4 linked regions of the Homo sapiens genome follow. The protein of the gene in region 2 purifies or fractionates together with the protein of the main gene of each other region. This does not show direct contact. Each region holds a gene or a part of one and is shown on either strand. Other genes may lie near its edges. The genes, in order: ZNF280D, AHDC1, CRTAP and ADNP2.

Region 1 (3,834 bases), on a different chromosome or scaffold from region 2:
CAGCCAACATCCTATTTTTGTAAATAAAGTTTTACTGGAACACAAATAGGTTCATAATTTACATATCATCTACAGTGGCTTTCATGATACAAGGCAGAGTTGGGTAATTGTAGCACATGGCCCACAATTATTTACTGTCTGGCCCTGTAGAGAAGGTTTCCTAACCGCTGCTCTAAAGCACTGCTACCAAAGGTTTGGTTTGCATACCTGGATTGGTTGTTCCTGATTGGAGATAAGGAGATTGAAAGAGAATGTAAACCAGCTATGGTACCAAATACAATTCTTAATTCAGCTATTTTTTTTTTCATTGCCAGACTTTCTCAATGAAGCACTTACAGTCCAGTATAGGTTCCTTTTCTCATAGTATATAGGTACAAACAGTTCATTGACCTGCTACTTTGAATACCACTACTCAAAAGGTATATGGGGGCTGATGTAGCAAAGCTCCAAAGGGATTATGGTGTCATAATGTGATAATGTGGCAACAGACTGAATGAGACTCACAAGTGGTCCTTATAGAGACAGGCGTTTTTCCTAACCCTGCTCTTCTAAGGTTTATATTATTCCAAAAATCTTCCATGATACAGAATTACATTTTAACAAGGTGAAGGATGAGAGCTAATGGCTCCCTCTCTCCCTATCTTTTCTTGGGAGCAGGAAAGATAAAAATATTAGCTCTCCTCCCCAAAATACTCCAAATAATTCATAATATATTTTGCCTATTTAGCCTCTTTAAATTGTTGGGCAGATAGAAAAGTATAATATTAAATTCTATTTCTCTTGAAGTAAAAGAATTTATAAAGCAAATCTATTCTCATAAATATTAGCAATATTGTCCCCTGTACTTTAAGTCCTAATTTAAAATAATGTATCAGCAGTTAAAGAATGTAGAATGGAATCCTCACCACTAACACTGATATTAAATTTCTTGAACAAGTATATAATTTCTAAAGGCACCAAAGGTAATCTGAATCAAGCAGTGATTGGAAAAATAGAATTATTCGGGGGCAGATTTTTATTGCAAATATTTACTCAAAAACTACTATATACAGCAGAGTATTTTAATCGCCATTTAAAACATTGAACATTCAGTGAAACAAAATTTAAGAATCCAAAGCACATTTTAAGAAGTAAAAATGAAGCATTTTAAATAAAAGTTTATTAGTATTTCAAAGCAAACTACTGTTCTTCATATTATTCATTTCTATATCTATTATATTCTAGATGATAAAAAGAACTGAAAAATCAATTTAGCAGCCATCTTATAGATAAATTAGGCTAAATTTCCAAAACCAGTTCTTTTACATCACTGTTTTAGGTCCCATTTGAAGTTTTTATTTTACAATTACAGAAAAGTCACTTAAACATGGCTGAATACATGCCAGGACATGTTTTCAGTTTACTGCTTTACAATATCTACATTATACCATACTTTGGTTTGGCTTCCAGACCATTTTTATGGGCCTATTTCTAAGGAAGATCATTAAAACAATATTAAAAGCATAATAGCTACAGGAGTTTCAACAATGGGTTTCTACTTTACATTAATACAACTAATACATCAAAGAATTTCTACACAGCTTACACACTGACAAAAAGCACAAATATAAATTTATATCTTAATAATTCCACTTTCACTGAAAGTTTAATTAAGGTAAGCTTACAGCCTGGCAGGCTAACACTTGTATGGAGGTACAAAGATTCAAATATTCTGTTTACATGCGTCTGACTGGAATGTTATATTAAATCCAAAATTAAGTTTATGTTCATCCAAATTCTCATTAGATCAATTTAGTACTCTAAGCATGCTCCATTTACCAGCATCATCCTCACAAATAAAGCCTTCATTAACAATGCCAATCAGCCATTGTTTTTAATCAATTACTCCCCAAAAGTACATGGTTTCCAAATCCCTTCCTCTCAGTTAACTGAAAAGGATATACAGGTAATAAAGATTTTTAGCTTAGGATTGATGGAAGTTTGAAAGGCTTTATAAATATTACTAATATCATCAATTCATGTCAGCAACCAAATCCCATTTCCTTGAAAACCATTAAATGAGACCTTTCCACTGCAAATTTAATTATCATTAAAATCCTGTTCGTGTTTTTAAAAACTTTTTGGGAATCCCTACTAATCATGCTATTATTGGTGAATTGATTTGTTTGATAACATAGGTTGAACATACAGGTAAAGTGTATGTGTGACCTCCCTTACATATTTCCATTTCTGAACCTACAACAGCACCACTGAGCTCACCTGATAGCACTGTTCCAAATGCCCTTATCGTTGGTACACTGAAACTTAAAATGACTAATTTCAACTTCTTTCTTTTTCGTCTTCCAGGTCTACTGTTGCCTCTGTTGTGCTAGGGTTATTTCCTCCAGGAATGTCATCTGTTTGATCAGACACTACTTCATCAGTCTTGGCTGAAGGATCACCACTACCTTTCTGAAGAATCTCTGTGGCTTCATACTCAAGTACCTCGGATGGAGTCAGAGGTTCCAAATGAATACTGCCTTGCTCGCTAACATCAGAACTAACAGATTCAGGTTCATGTCTTTTTCTCAAAAACTGATCAATGCTTACATTATCTGATGCTAATCGCAAATCCTTAATATTCTTTGAAGAAAATCTGGCTTCACTGGAGTTGTGATCTTTAATCTGATCAGATAAGATTATGTTTTCTGAACTTTGGCACATCTTCAACTCCATTTCCTGACAAACGTGTTGTATTTGTTTTTTCTTTTCCACTTTATCTGCACCAATATTTGAATCACAACTGACGATGTTTTTTGAGCCAGTTTCCTGGTCTGCAAGACAGGTTTCATTTTCCTTATCTGAAACTGTTATGCTTTCTTCACTTTTTGTTGTTGATGAGCCTTCAAATGAATTTGCATTACATCCATTTTTTTCTTTTGAAGAAGCAGCTTTATCTTGTTTACTGAAAAATAAAGTCATTTATTATGTATTTCTTCATAAAGCAATGTTTTTGAACACTGTCAAAATAAAGACGTGTTCTAAAAAATAAAAAGTCAAGGTACATTTGCCCACCAAAAAGGAAAACAGTCCAAGTTCCCAATCCTCGCTATGGCAGTAAAATTTAGGAGGAGGCCATTTTCTTAGGCAAGATTCTGAGAAACTCTGGAATCACATACTAAAAGATATCTATCAACTAGTTTTAGTCCTGGCTGTCATTATTTTCATCTGTTCATATCTCTTGCCTGTTTCTAGTTTAAATTTAAGTATTTTTATTAACTTGTAAAAGTACCTAAAATAAAAAAATATATTTGGAAAAAAATCTATATTTTTTTATGATTTTTTTTTTTTTTTTTTTGAGACAGGGTCTTGCTCTGTCACCCAGACAGGAACACAGTGGTGCAAATATCTCACTGCAGCTTTGACCTCCTGGGCTCAAGTGATCCTCCCACCTCAGCCTCCCAAGTAGCTAGGAATATAGGTGCACACCACCAAGCCCAGCTATTTTTTTTATATTTCATAGAGACAAGGTTTTGCCATGTTGCCCAGGCTGGTCTCCTGGGCTCAAGCAATCCTCTTGCCTTGGCTCCCAAAGGGCTGGGATTACAGGTATGAGCCACCATGCCCAGTCTCCTTTATGATTTAAATAGCTTCTTATGTTTAGAATGTCTTTCCATACATAAAATCAGATAAGCATTCAAACATATTTTTCTAATTTTTAATAGCCCAATTTAAAAAAAAAACACATGCCTGAAAAAGTATATGTAAATATATAACATACATACACATCTAAGTGTGTGTGCATGTTTGTACACATATATATATGTGTGCTTCTGTGTGTTTCTTCTGGCCCTG
Region 2 (5,124 bases):
GAACAACAATGTCCCTCTGGGGCTCTGCCAGTCCAGAACAGCTCCCCCTACCCAAATGTCTTCTGCCAGGGGCAGTCTGCCCCTCAAGCCTCCAGCACAACCACAGCAATCAGGTGGAGACCCCATCTTTTAACCTTTTGAATCCAAGTCCAACTTCCCTACTGTACACCTCCACTTAGCTCAGCAGGGGGTTCCAGAAGCCTCCCAGCCCAGATCTAAGCCCATGCAGTGGGGGTAACAAAGTCCCCCAGCTCCCAAACCCCTTCCCCAAAGGCCCCATCAAGGGCTGGGGAGCAATGCAAAATAACCCCAGAACCCTCACGCATTGAAACTGAGAAGCTATGCTGTCCCACAGCGCCTGAGGGTGGTAGGGGCTCCCTGCCCCCACGACCCTGTTCCAGACCCCCCAGCCCAGCAACAATAATAAACAGCAAGCTCTTTTTCTTTATGACACCAAATTTCTCCAAGCCCAACAGCTCCTTCCATCACTACCTCAGCCATAGATCACATTAAAAACTCACAGAGGGCAACTTAAACACATCACATTTGTTTCTCTCTATATTATTTCAAAAGTAACGGCATTAAAAATGGATTTTACTACAGAAAATAAATATCGGCACGTGGGCTGGGAGCCCAGGCGGAGGAGAGCGCCCACCAGGGGAACGTTCCTGAGGGCTTGGGCACAGTTAGGCACTGACCAGACTAGAAAGGCCAGACTACACCTTGGGCTTGTGGGTGATTCCTGGGGAGGGGGCAATGCCTGCCCACCTGGGCATCTGCCCCAAAGCCAGATGAAGAAGGACAACTCACTGGTTTGGGCTGGTAGCCACTGGTCCCCCAAAGCTTATGCCCTTACTGGTCTTTGCAACCCCTGAAGAGTGGGAGCTCTGGGGCCAGAAGTTCACCAGTCTCTGGGGATTACTCCAACTATTGACACAGCAGGAGAAAAAAATGAATTCAACTTACTATCCAGTTTGATTTTCCATTACTATAAAAATAAATATACATCTGCTCAAAGGAGGGAGATGGCAAGCAGCATGCACATGCCACCTGGGGGGTCCCCCCACAACCCAGCCTTCCTACCCCCCCACCCCAGGTTGGGGGACAGACTGGTAATCTTTCACTTACAGCCCCAGCTCACACAGCCACACAGAACAGGAACAAGCCAACAATAGAAACACCCCAAATGCCCCTGGCAGGACTCTGCCCAGGCCCGGGCACATGCCCCCGCCCAGCCGGCGGCGACAGCAGCAGCGGACAAAATGTGGCCACCCTGACCCGGAGGCAAAGCTTGTCCTCACACCCTGAGCTCTGCCCAGGGAGCTGGGGCCAAGTCCCGCCTGACACCAACTGGTCCGGCGGGAAACGCCTGCCCAGCCAGACAGGCACAGGCCCCCCAAGGGTCCCTCCTTGTGCTCAGGGACCAGGCTGGTACAGTCCGGCCCTGCCTCCCAGGGTGACGCCTGGGCCCAAATTCAGCTGGCCCTGCCAGTCAGGCACTGGTGCAGAACCGAGGGCACCAGGCTCAGCCCCTCCCAGCCCAGCCCCAGGGCCCCCAAGCTGGGAGGGAGGGGAGACTCCCCACCCCTCCACATCTGGCCCTGGCCCCCAGGGTCTGCGGTAGAGAATTCCCGCCCCCGCTTCTCTCCCTCCTCCCGCTCTGTGCCCGCTGCCCGCCTCAGGGACAGCCCCAGCTCCCGCCTCCGGCCAGCAAGGCCCACATCCTTCCTCCCTCAGCTGGCCCCTTCGCCTGGCAGGAGGCTGGGGGGTCAGGCTGCTGGGGAACCCCCCCAAGCTCCCATCAGTCCTCATCCCCAGCCCCCAAACTCTGGGTTGCTGTCCCTTTTCCTGTAGAACAGGAAACAAGGTTATTTCCTAGACTCAGAGCCAGCCCCCTGCCCCTCTGGCTCTGCCCGGGGACCCAGACCCAGCAGGGGAAGGCGCCCTCAAGCAGCGAGCAGAGATTCAGCAATTCACCCCAGCTCCCTGCCTAGGGGGCTGACAGCTGTCACTCAGCACCCCACCCCCTGGGGAAGAGGGGGCCGATTCAATCAGAGCCCCAGAGGAAACGCATTGATAGGCGATTATTTATTTATTTATGCAAAAGTGAGCCGACTTTGTTCGCCAGGTAACCGGGCACGCGGCCCAACCCCTCCAGCCCTAGCCGCCCCCAAATCCCTCCTCCGCCCCACACCCCCTCCGGGTCATTAGGTCCCCGCCCCTCAACTCCCCGAGAGCCAGTGGATCCTAGGGATTTGGGGGTTGGAGGGGAGGGGCTCCTCCCTCCGCAGTCTCCCCTTTTCCCAGCGCCGATCCTAAAATCCAGCCTTGTTCTCCGCTCCCACGGTCCCCCCTTCATTCCCCCCCCCCCCACATTCTCAGCAAGCTGGAGAGCAAATTGCAGTTTTAAATCCAAAGGCGGAGGGAGGGGGAAGGAGGAGGGGGCGCGCGGCAGCGCTGGGCGCGCACCTCGCCCCCGAGCCGGGGGAGCCGCGGGGCGGCCAGGAAACCCGAGAACCCCCCCTCCCCGCCCCCCCTCCCCGTCCACCTCCCCCTCCCCCTTCCCGGCGCTGCCTGCCAGGCTTCGAGCCGAGCCCAGCCGAGCCGCGGGCCCCGGTGGAAACAAAGACCGATCGCACCGCGGGCACCGCAGCCACCGGGTCCAGCGGACCGGACCGGGGGACGCAGGCCCCCCCCGTGCGCTGCACAAAAGAGCCTGGCCGGCCGGTCCCCAGCGGGGGTCTGGGGCTGGGGAGGAGGCGCCACTCACCGGAGTGCTGGGCTGCCGGCTCCGTGGGTCCGAGCCAGGCGAGGGGTTTTGGGGGACGTCTGTCTTCCGGCGGTGGCAGCGACGCGGGCGCCCGGCTGCTGAGGAGAGGAGTCGTGGAGGAGCCCTGAGCCGCCCGCCGTCGCTGACAGCATGGCTCGCGCCTCGGCTCACATTCTCCGCCGCTAACTCCGCTGGACACGGCCCCCCGCTCCCGCGGCGCCCCCCCACCTCGATCACTCCTTCGCTCTCTCTGCGCCCCCCTCGCCCTCCCGCCGCGCACACACTCTCCCAGCCCTGGACACCCCCGCCCCCACCCCCCCCAATAGCAAACCTGGGAGGGAACGCGCCCCGCGTAGTCCTCCTGCTCCTCCTCCTCCGCCCTCCTCCCTCCCGCTCTCTCTGGCTGTCTGTCTGTCTCTCAGACTGTCTCTATTTCTCGCTCTCTCTGCCTTTCTCTGCTCTCCAAGCTGGGTGGGAAAAGGAAATGAGGACAGAAAGCAGACGCTGGCTTTGGGTGGTGGTAGCTGGATTCCCTCTCTCCCTCCCTCCCCCTCCTCCCCTCCCTCCTCCTGCCTTCTGCTCTCTCCGCTGCGAGCGGGGCTGAGCGCAGCCTGGCGGGTGGCTCGCTCTGCCCGCCCGCCCGCCTGTCTGTCTGTCTGGTCCGCCTCGCTCGCTCCCTCCCTCCGTCTCTCGCCCTCGCCCTGCCTGCCTGCCTCTCTCCGTCTCCGCCGCCGCCGCCGCTGCCTCTGCGAGCTCGCCTTACCTTCGCCGCTCACCATCCGGAACCCCAGGGGGGAGCGCGCGCGCGGCACGCCGGGACTTGTAGTCCCCGCCCCGGCCGCTCCGCGCGCGGGGAGGGCGGGGCCGCGCCGGCTGCTCCGACGGCGCGGCCAGGAGCCCCGGGGACCCCGCGCCTGGGGCTCGTCTGGCTGGAGCGCGTCCTCGTTTACCAACGGGCGAAGATCCTCCCCAAGGGTTAAGAATGGTCCCTGTGTTCCTTGTCTCCACCGGGGGGCTCTGGATCGAGCGGAGGTTGCGGGTGGGAGTGAAGGGGCGGGGTCTGAGAGTGGAATGGGAGTGGAATAGGGAACCAGGGGATTAGCCAAAGGGGCTGCGACTTTCTGGGGCGTCCCAATTAAATGGGAGGGGGAGAGGGCAGAGGAGAGGACCGGCTCTCTCAATCTGGGGACGTTATCCTTTTCTGAAAAGGTTTCTTATTGAGTAAAGCTCAAGTATATATGGCGGGAGGGCTGCTGGGGCGGGGGAGCGGGGGAGACCCAGCCAGCGCTGCTTCCTCACTCAGTGACCCCTCCTCTCAAACTCCGACCTCGGTTTCGCCCTTGCAACTCCCAGCTTTCCTATATGTCCAAGGGCGGCGAGGGCTCAAAAGTCCTGGATAATCCGCAGATAGAACACACACACCCTTTTCCGAATTCTGCTGAGCATTTGCGTTGTGTCAGGAAGCAGGATTCAGATTGAACGGTGCTGACCTCCTGCCGCGGCCGGGGGCTGGGCTCAGCACTTTCACCTACCTCCTCTTCAGGTCACATGTGTTCTCCAGCCCCTGCCTAGCCTATCCCACAGATGGGAATGTGCGCTGCTTGGGGGCCTTGTTACCGCCCCCGGAGATGGCTGAACTGCTGCGGTAAAATAGTGCTGTTATTTCCATTTTAGAGATGGGGGCACTGAGGTCCAGGTTCTCCAGTTAGCAAGTGGCTGAACCCAGCTGGATTTGAACCAGGGTCTGACTAACTCCAAACCCCACAAGCTTAACCCCTGGGCTATGACAAGGAGTTGTGACTCCCTCCATTTCTGTAACTGACCTTCTCTCCCTGTGTCTGTGTGTCCTTTCTTGGCACTTCAACAAATGTTAACTGAGGTATGCAGGGCTTGCAAGGGACACGGAGATGAATAATGCATAGTGGCTGTCGTGTCCTGTGTCCTAGGTGTCTACCAACGCCGGCCCTGACTGGCCCTGCGGCGGTCCCACCTCACTGGACCACCTCATCTGTGTGTCTGATGTTCCACACCCTGTGTCTGCTGGCCTTGTCTATCTTGCTCCAGGTCTGAAGTTCCTAGAGCAGTGCCTTTGTCTCTGGCCTACCTGTTTCTGACTCTTCCTTTGGCCTTGCAGGGTGTTGGCCAGTGTGTGACAAAGGCAGCTGGTGACATTTTGCCAACCGCAACTCCCTGGTCACTATCTTCCCCACACCTTCACTCCTTCCAAGCTCCTTCTCTATGGCAGTCCAGTACCCCCAGAGGACAAGAGAGGGGATCTGGGGAACACTCTCTATTGGCCCTTGGCAGAGGGTGTGTGCAGCAGTAATAGGAGAGGTCTAGGGCTCTAAACGGGA
Region 3 (4,500 bases), on a different chromosome or scaffold from region 2:
ACCTCCGCCTCCTAGGTTCAAGTGATTCTTGTGCCTCAGCCTCGTGAGTAGCTGGGACTACAAGCATGTGACTACACCTGGTAATTTCTATATTTTTAGTACAGATGGGGTTTCCCTATATTGGCCATGCTAGAGGTATTTCTTTATAGCAATGTGAGAACAGACTAATATACCTGCTCTCAAACTTACATTTTTCTTTTCGTTCCATTTTAAAAACCAGTTTTATTGAGGTACTATTTATATACAATATATTTATCAATTTTAAGTGTATAATGCAGTAAGTTTTGACAAATACATCCAGTCCTGTAACTGCCATCATAGTTACGACATAGAATATTTTCATCACCCCTGAACAATTTCCTCTTGTCCTTTTGTAGTCAAGTTTTTGCTGTAACCCCTGACTTCTGGCAGCCACTGATCTGATCTCTGTCATAGTTTTCCCATTTTCCTTAATTCAGATTATTATCAAGGGCCTGCTACTTTTTGAATTGAACTAAATAAGAAATGTACCCATCATAAGCAAAGTAGAAAAATCTAGATATAAAGTAACTCACTGATTGACTTCTTCAAGGGCCAGTGTGGCTTCTTCAGAGCTAATGAGAGCTAGCTTGGTGGTGGTCTTGGTTCCCTTTGAGATTTCATGACTGTCTCCCTTCACGCCCAAGAGCGAGCTTCACTGGCTTCTCCATGCCTTTCAGAGCCTGTTCATCCGAGCAGTGCGGGCATACAACGGTGAGAACTGGAGAACATCCATCACAGACATGGAGCTGGCCCTTCCCGACTTCTTCAAAGCCTTTTACGAGTGTCTCGCAGCCTGCGAGGGTTCCAGGGAGATCAAGGACTTCAAGGATTTCTACCTTTCCATAGCAGGTTGGTGGTAGGTCAATAGGCTCACTACTCCCATGGAATAGTCTTCCTTAGATGTCTGGTTTCTGCCTGCATGCCTGCTAGATGCCTGGAGCAGCCTCTGAGGAATTTTTGAGCATACTTATTAACGGGTAACTGAGGGTAGTCACCACCTGCATAGATAAACCTTTGACTTGGCAGGGGCTTCTAGTGAAATCACTGAGAGAAGGTTCAAGCACAGGCCTGCCAAGGTAGAATTCTGTGTCTGCCCTACTTGCTTACAGATTTCCTACAGTCATTTTGAAAAATAAAAATGGGCCCAGGAGCACCTCAGTGACTCACATTACTGAGATAACTTTGATGATGGCAATTTTCCAACACATATAAAGGTAGAATGAACCTTTAAGTGGCCATCACTAAGGTAGCTTTTTGAAATTTTCTTTTCTGATTATAAAACAATGTGTGCTCATTATAGGAAGTTTGGAAAACACAGAAAGGAAAAATGAAGAAAGGAAGAAAATGTAAAACTCTACACATAGGTAGCCCAGATTTCTCTATAGTGCCTAGACATTTCCCAAGTGCTTTACTGGGCAGCATCACTCCAGAAACTGGGAAATGGCTAAGGGAAGCTCTTTCCCAAAGTGGTTTGAGAACACTGATCCTAGAACTGTGCCTTCCTGAAAGCACTAGATAAGTAAAATCTGGACTGTACCTTGGATAAAGGTATCATGTCTATGTACTTGTAAATAAGTCTGGGAATGGGCTGAGCACTGACTGCATCTCCCACTTGAAGAATCATTGTGCACTTTAATGGTTAAAGGCCCTTAGAAATCCTGCAGTAGAGAAGCTCTTTTAAAGTTATTGAATCCAGCGTTTTCGGTTTTGTTTTTTTTTTTCAGTCACTTTTTATTCATTAATCTCTTTCTACAAAGTAGGTTTTTTTTTTTTTTTTTTTTTTTTGCCTTAAGAAAACTTCTTGTTATGGAAAATTTCAAACATACACAAAAAACAGAGAGAAGAGTAGATAAACCACCATGTACCCATGACCCAACTTCACAATTGTCAACTCATGGCTACTTGAGCTTCCTCTAATTCCCACCTACTTTTCCTCTCATGTTATTTTGAAGCGGATTCCAAATGCCATATTATTTCATTTGTAATATTTCAGTATATACCTTTAGAAGGTAAGGACTCTTTGTTTTTTAAACATAACACCAAACTATTACCCCTGTAAGAATTTTAACAATCATTCTTTGATCTCATCATTAAATACCTAAACAGTGTCCCAATCATTTCAGAAATGTCATAAATACATGTGTGTGCCTTTAATTTACCATTTGTTTGAATCAGGATCCAAATAAGGTCCATCCATTGCAATGGGTTATCTCTTGAAAATTTTTATTGTGGTAAAATATACGTTAATATGAACTTTATTATTTTAGCCATTGTTCAATGTACACTCCAGTGGCATTGACTACATTCACATGATTGTGCAACCATCAGCACCATCCATCTCTAGAACTTTTTATGTTTCCCCAAATTGAAACTCTGTATGCGATAACTCCCCATATCCCCTTCCCCCCAGCCACTGGCAACAACCTTTCTACTTTCTGTCTTTGTGAATTTGACTACTCTAGATACATCACGTAAGTGGAGTCATACAGTATTTGCCTTTTTGTGACTGACTCATTTCACTTGGCATAATGTCCTCGTTTCATCCATATTGTGGCAAGTTGGTTATCTTTTATGGCTCGTTTAATCCATAGGTTCTTCCGCCATATCTTTTCCCCTTTGCTATTGAAGAATCTGCATTTTTTGTCCCGTAGAGATTCCCATGGTCTGGGTTTTGCTGACTGTATCCCCATGTTCCTCTGTCTTCTGTATTTCTTGTAAATCGGTAATTGGATGTAGAGGCTTGAACAGGCTCGGTTTGATTTTGTTTTAGGGTTTTAAATTTTGGTGGGAGTCAACTGCTTCATAGTTGATGCTGAGTTCTTTCATCAGGAGGCACATAATGTCTGTGGTTTCTCTCCATCTATCTTTGATACAGCTAAGATATATATGTATTGTAAATCAAAGAGTATCTGAGACAAGTCTCAATCAATTTAGACAGTTTATTTTGCCAAGTTAAGGATGTACTTGTGACACAGACTCAGGAGGTCCTAACAACATATGCCCAAGGTACTCAGGGCACAGTTTGGTTTTATACATTTTAGGGAGACATGAGACATCAATCAATATATGTAAGATGTACATTGCTTCAGTCCAGAAAGGCAGGACAACCCAAAGTGGGAGGGGGTTTCCAGGTCATAGGTAGGTGAGAGACAAATGGTTGCATTCTTTTGAGTTTCTGATTAGCCTTTCACTGAATATGCAATTTGCAGGAATAGTCACTTATGCTTTAGTCTGGCTTAGTGAAACAACAGAGCAAAGGAAACAACCATATATACATTTGTTCCATGTGAGCAGAGGGATGACTGAGTTCTGCCTGTCCTTTGTCCACAAAAACTTCCTTGTGGGCAAATTATGAGAGAGATTTGTGGCTTTTTTTTTTTTTTTTTAAATTTTTGTAGCTATCTTATTTAGGAATAGGATGGGAAACACATTTGTCCTACATGGTTCCCAGCTTGACTTTTCCCTTTGGCTTAGTGATTTTGAGGTCCTGAGATTTATTTTCCTCTCACAGTATAGATATATAGATATTTAGAGTTTCTTTAGTTTTTATTTTTAAATAATTTCAAACTTGTAGAGAAGTCGGAAGAATCATACAAAGAACTCTCATGTACACCTTACCTAGATTCACCAATTTGTAACATTGATTGTGCCACATTTACTTTATTGCTCTCTCCATATGTGCTGTGGGTATAATTATTATTGTTATTATTTTATTTATTTATTTATTTATTTTTGACATGGAGTTTCCCTCTTGTTGCCCAGGCTGGAGTGCAACGGCGCGATCTCGGCTCACTGCAACCTCTGCCCCTTAGGTTCAGGCAATCCTCCTGCCTCAGCCTCCCGAGTAGCTGGGATTACAGGCATGCACCAACACGTCTGGCTAATTTTTATATTTTTAGTAGAGACGGGGTTTCACCACGTTGGCCAGGCTGGTCTCGAACTCCTGACCTCAGGTGATCCACCCACCTCGGCCTCCCAAAGTGCTAGGAGTACAGGCGTGAGCCACCGCACCCGGCCTATTATATTTTATTTTTGAGACTGAGTCTCACTCTGTCGCCCAGGCTGGAGTGCAGTGGTGCGATCTTGGCTCACTGCAACCTCTGTCTGCCGGGTTGAAGCAATTCTCCTGCCTCAGCCTCCTGAGTAGCTGGGACTACTGGCAGGCGCCACCACACCTGGCTAATGTTTTGTATTTTTAGTAGAGACAGCGTTTTGCTGTGTTGGCCAGGCTGGTTTCAAACTCCTGACCCCAAGTGATCCGCCCGCCTTGCCCTCCCAAAGTGCTGGGATTATAGGCTTGAGCCACCGCACCCAGCTCTGTATAATTATTTTTATTTCAGAACTATTTGGAAGTATGTTGCACATGCATTATTACTCTTTACCCCATTATACTTCAGTTTATTTCCTAAGAACAATAATATTATCTAAATATCCATAGTAATTAAATTCAGGAAACTTAATATACTAGATACAATGCTT
Region 4 (4,500 bases), on a different chromosome or scaffold from region 2:
AAGATTCTGCCCCTCAGGGACCACCTGGTAATGACATTTTTGGTGGCCACAATGGGGAGAGAGTAGGGACATGCGTGCTACTAGTGTCTAACGACACTGCTCAACATCCTACAGTGACAGAATAGCCACCCACCACAGAGAATTACCTGACCCAAAATGTCAGCAGTGCTGAGGCTGGGAAACCCTAACGTACACAACAAAAGGAAGGTGAGGATTCAACCACGCCAGACGGCAGCTGCCTCCTCATCAGCACCTCCTCCACACTCACCCTGAACACAGCCACAGTGAAGGAAACTTCACAGCACTGACACCCCAGTTACATACCTTCTTTGGCACTTTGGGGGCTACCAGTATAGAATCATCAGGAATCTGTAGTTACACCTATTTTGTGACCCCAGTAATTAGACCTTTTGGGTTATGTTCTTATTTTCACACAAATGACAGGTAAGGTTTTTTTAGAAAATAAATGTGGTATCTATTCCCATATAGAGGTTATCCCTATGATTCACAATAATGTTTTAACTTTTAAAAGAATTAAACAGTTCTATTTGCAGCGGTGTAACAAATTTTAATTCAAAATAGACACTCTGAAAACAATAGGTAAAAAAAAAAAATGTTCAACAAGCTCTCTTTGAATTTACAACAGAGTACACCAACAATCATAAACCAGTTTCACAACTGCCTCAAATATGAACATTATAGCAATTACATGCAAGTATTATATTTTTTAAAATCCACATAGTAACATTATGTTTCTCAGAGGCTGTCACATCCTCCAAATATTTCTACCTAAAGATAGAGTGAAGGGGTTCCTCTGCTGTGTACCACCAGAAATATGACTTACCATCTAAACTGGCTGGTCTCCATGACTGGTTCTGGTGCTTTAAGTTTTAATATCGTGTGGGGAAAAAAACGAGGTTTAACATCCACAGGACAGTGACGACAATGGAGATTCTTTAACAATATGCCATCCCATCGACCCGGACACAGCTTCCAGCCTAAACCAGCTAGAGAAAAGCCCGTTTCTCCACTAAACATGACCTTCAGAAAATGTGGTCAAAGACTTACTGTACCAACCATGGAGACTGAGATCTCAGTCTGTAAACTTCGCCATGTCCCCTGAAACCCTATGCTGAAATTTAAGTTAGTTTTCACACTCAGGGGCAATAATCTTATTCCTGAGTATCATAGACCTTCCCTTTCACTAGTTTATGAGTAGTTAAGTTAGGAGAAGAGTTTTGGGGTGTATTCTTTCAATGTTTATTCTAAAGGCACTAAAAATTTATTGTTTTACCTCTGAACGGAGAAATGACTTAGCATATCAAAAGGGAAAATCTACACTGAAAAATATTTCTGCATCTACAGAATAAATTTATTTGTAAAATAACTCTTGATGTATGAGCTACATACCAGCATACCAGATGTCAAATTCAGTCTACTTTTAACAAATAAAAACATTTGATTTTCTATGAGTTATGGTTAAAAAAAAAAACAGCTATTAGGATAAACCTAAAAAAATACAGATCTAAATTATAATCTATAAGCAAAGATCTTACAAAGAAGTCAGCGTAAGTTAATGCAGTGCATCCTCAGGGAGCCTTATACATACATCACAGGGTTTGTACCCACGTCTCTGAACACTCACTGTACCATCTGCTGCTACAGGGAAAGCTGAAGGAGATCGATGCTTCCACTCGCAGTTAAATCAAGTATTCTGAAAAAGGCTGAAATGTCCTTAATGAAAAAGCAAATTATTTATAGATTTCAGTTTCTTATCATACGATACTGACACTAGTGGGAAAACAAGGCGTGCATGAAATATCAAAAGATTTCATTTACATGACAGAGAAAAAAACCTGAAAACAACTGTTCTGTTACAAATCAAACTGCAGGAAACAATAGATGTGAAATAACTACTGGCTTCCTGGTAACAGGGGTCTCTCCAGCACCTGAAGTAACTCTGCAGAGCAGCACAGTGACCACTGAGGTTGATTCACCAACACAGTGAGGACAACACTGTGAAATTTCAACTGAAAAAAATCTACCTACTACTTTAGAGTTACTTTTTTTTTTTTTTGCAAGTTTTATGGTTCATATTCAAAGTTCAATCTATGTTTCACATTTTTAAGTTCAGACATATCAAAGCCTAAAAGTACAGAAGGCTTGTGATTTTTTATTGCTTTCATGCAAATATACCTTCTTTTTCCAAAAAATGAAGCCACATCAATTTTCCACACCCAAAAGAGTGAGGACAACAGTTCTATTTCCTTTTTACTAGGATATGGTTTCTTATGGAAATAATCTTTAAGAAATTGCTTCTTTTCTTCATAAGAACGGCCTTCATATTTTTTAGGATCTAATGCTAAAATCTGAAGAGCCTCGTCCTTGACAATAGGTCCCTCTGTTCTGCTTTCATTCCTTTGTCTTTTAAAAGGCACAACACTCGTCACCTTTTCTGGACCCGGGGCTGCATCGGCATTTAGGATGGGAGGCTGCTCCTCCCCATGCCGCTGGTCTTCGGCCCCTAAGTGGCCGTCAGGCAGCTTTCTCTTAACAGAAAAACTGGAATCATGCATCACTTCACCACTGACTAAAAGCAGTTCACTGTTGTGAATAAAACCCGGCTGGGCCTGCAGGTCTGAGCTGCTGTCCTTGGGAGCACTTCTGCAGCGCACCAAATGGACGGCGATGGCAGCCAGGGTCATATTTCCCGTGTAGACCCCACAGCAGTGGATGCACTTGAAGGCGGGAGACTTCAGGACCGTGTGGACTGTGGGCATGATGTGGTGCCTCTCCTTCAAATGCAGCTCATAGGCCTCAGTTGTCACAAAGGGGCCAAAGCAAAAGGGGCAGGTGGACACTCGCTTGCCGGTGCTCCCGGGGGTGCCCTCAGCCTGAGGCCTCACCTTCACATACACAGGCACCAGTGACTTGGAGTGTATCCCAGCCAGGATTGCCAAGTAGACTTCCCGCTCCCCAAGCTTCTCCTTTGGCAATATGGTGATGAAATCAAGGTGGGGAAAGAGCAGGTTGCCATTGGCATCGACATCTAATTGAAAACCTCTGTTGCTATAATCCATAGGCAACTTCTTCTTCCCCAGGTGCCTATTCCTGCTGTGCTCTGAAAGACCTTTGATATCATGGAAGGTGCATGGACAGAACAAGCACCCCAAGCCATGCATCAGCAAGTGGTGTATAAGCTCTTCCTCAGAGACCAAGCACTTACAAGACAGACATCGCACCGTTTTCTCTCTCATCCACTTTAGAAATGGTGCACACGCTGCCAGTTTTTCAGGCTCAAGTTTCTCACCAGACTTGGACTCGCTGTGCTTATGCGCTACCTCCATGTGGACCTGGTAGACGTTGGACGGAAAGAGCTCGTTGCAGACAGGGCAGGTCTTCCACTGCTTGGCCTGTTTGAGCACCTGGTTTGTGTCTGCTGCAGAGGAGGAGGCCTGAACAAACACGCTCTGAGCAGCATTCACCAGCACTGGAGGAGAGGGCATGCCGGGCATGGAACCGGCCATTGGTGCAGCTGCACCTGACGGCAGGAGCTGGATGGGCATCTGGGGCGGAGCGACAGTCGCAAGGCCTCCAGGGGGAACCGGCAGAGTGACAGACACGGGGGCCAGCGTGTAGGTTGGAATCCCATTCACTTGTTTCCCTGTAGGGATGAGCTGTCTGAGAATAGAGCCTGATGTCAGGAAGGTGGTGTTCTGCGAAGCACCAGGTCTCACTGGCTGATTCACAGGCAGAATGTTGGTGCCCACAGTCTGGTTGAGTTGCAAGACCCCAGGCCTCACTGGCTGGCCCACAGGAAGAACTCCCGACACAACAGGCTGACTAAGCTGCAGAACACCAGAATTCACACCCTGGTTTACAGGCACAACAGCTGAGGAGGAGACTGTCTGGTTGGGAGAAAGAAGCCCAGACGGGACCACCTGGCCTGCAGAGATAACCCTCAATGGGGCTGTCTGGCCTGGGGGAAGAACCCGTGACGGAGCTGTCTGGCCCACAGGGAGAACTCCTGACTGGACCATCTGGCCAGTAGGAAGAACCCCAGAAGTTGCTGTTTGCCCAGGGATAACCCCTGCAGGAGTCATCTGGCCTGCAGGAGTCATCTGGCCTGCAGGAAGGACTCCAGACGGGACCGCCCGACTCACAGAAAGCACCCCTGGCGAGACAGCCTGCAGGACCCCAGGGGTGACAGAGGGGCTCACAGGAAGAACACCAGGCCCAACAGGTCTGTTTATGGGTCCCACAGGCTGGGTGAGGGGTAAAACCCCAGGGCGAACAGTCTGATTTATGGGGAGGACACTAGTTCCAACAGACTTATTGACAGGTCCGACTGGCTGACTCAAGGGCAACACAGGAGGATTCACAGACTGATGAAGTGGAACCCCGTGAGAAAGAAAGACGGGCTGAGGTGCTGGGGGCTGCAGGGTGAGGCTGTTCTGGCCCACAGGCAGAGGGCTGGAGACCAGAGTCATGTGGGATTGG

Evidence for each region.
Region 1: the proteins of AHDC1 (region 2) and ZNF280D purify together in Homo sapiens (affinity purification with mass spectrometry, with the first as the bait; one large-scale study listed by BioGRID). This does not show direct contact.
Region 3: the proteins of AHDC1 (region 2) and CRTAP purify together in Homo sapiens (affinity purification with mass spectrometry; one large-scale study listed by BioGRID and IntAct). This does not show direct contact.
Region 4: the proteins of AHDC1 (region 2) and ADNP2 purify together in Homo sapiens (affinity purification with mass spectrometry, with the first as the bait; one large-scale study listed by BioGRID). This does not show direct contact.

The regions. Positions count from the first base shown.
Region 1 is NC_000015.10:56,629,179-56,633,012, forward strand, and holds the end of ZNF280D (zinc finger protein 280D), read right to left. Parts: intron 2,945-3,834; coding exon 2,320-2,944; 3' UTR 998-2,319; downstream 1-997. UniProt on the Homo sapiens protein: May function as a transcription factor.
Region 2 is NC_000001.11:27,600,627-27,605,750, forward strand, and holds the start of AHDC1 (transcription factor Gibbin), read right to left. Parts: upstream 3,519-5,124; 5' UTR 3,480-3,518; intron 3,238-3,479; 5' UTR 3,102-3,237; intron 2,869-3,101; 5' UTR 2,771-2,868; intron 1-2,770. UniProt on the Homo sapiens protein: Transcription factor required for the proper patterning of the epidermis, which plays a key role in early epithelial morphogenesis. Directly binds promoter and enhancer regions and acts by maintaining local enhancer-promoter chromatin architecture.
Region 3 is NC_000003.12:33,123,710-33,128,209, forward strand, and holds part of CRTAP (cartilage-associated protein isoform 1 precursor), read left to right. Parts: intron 1-698; coding exon 699-870; intron 871-4,500. UniProt on the Homo sapiens protein: Necessary for efficient 3-hydroxylation of fibrillar collagen prolyl residues.
Region 4 is NC_000018.10:80,136,394-80,140,893, reverse strand, and holds the end of ADNP2 (activity-dependent neuroprotector homeobox protein 2), read right to left. Parts: coding exon 2,085-4,500; 3' UTR 548-2,084; downstream 1-547. UniProt on the Homo sapiens protein: May be involved in transcriptional regulation. May play a role in neuronal function; perhaps involved in protection of brain tissues from oxidative stress. May be involved in erythroid differentiation.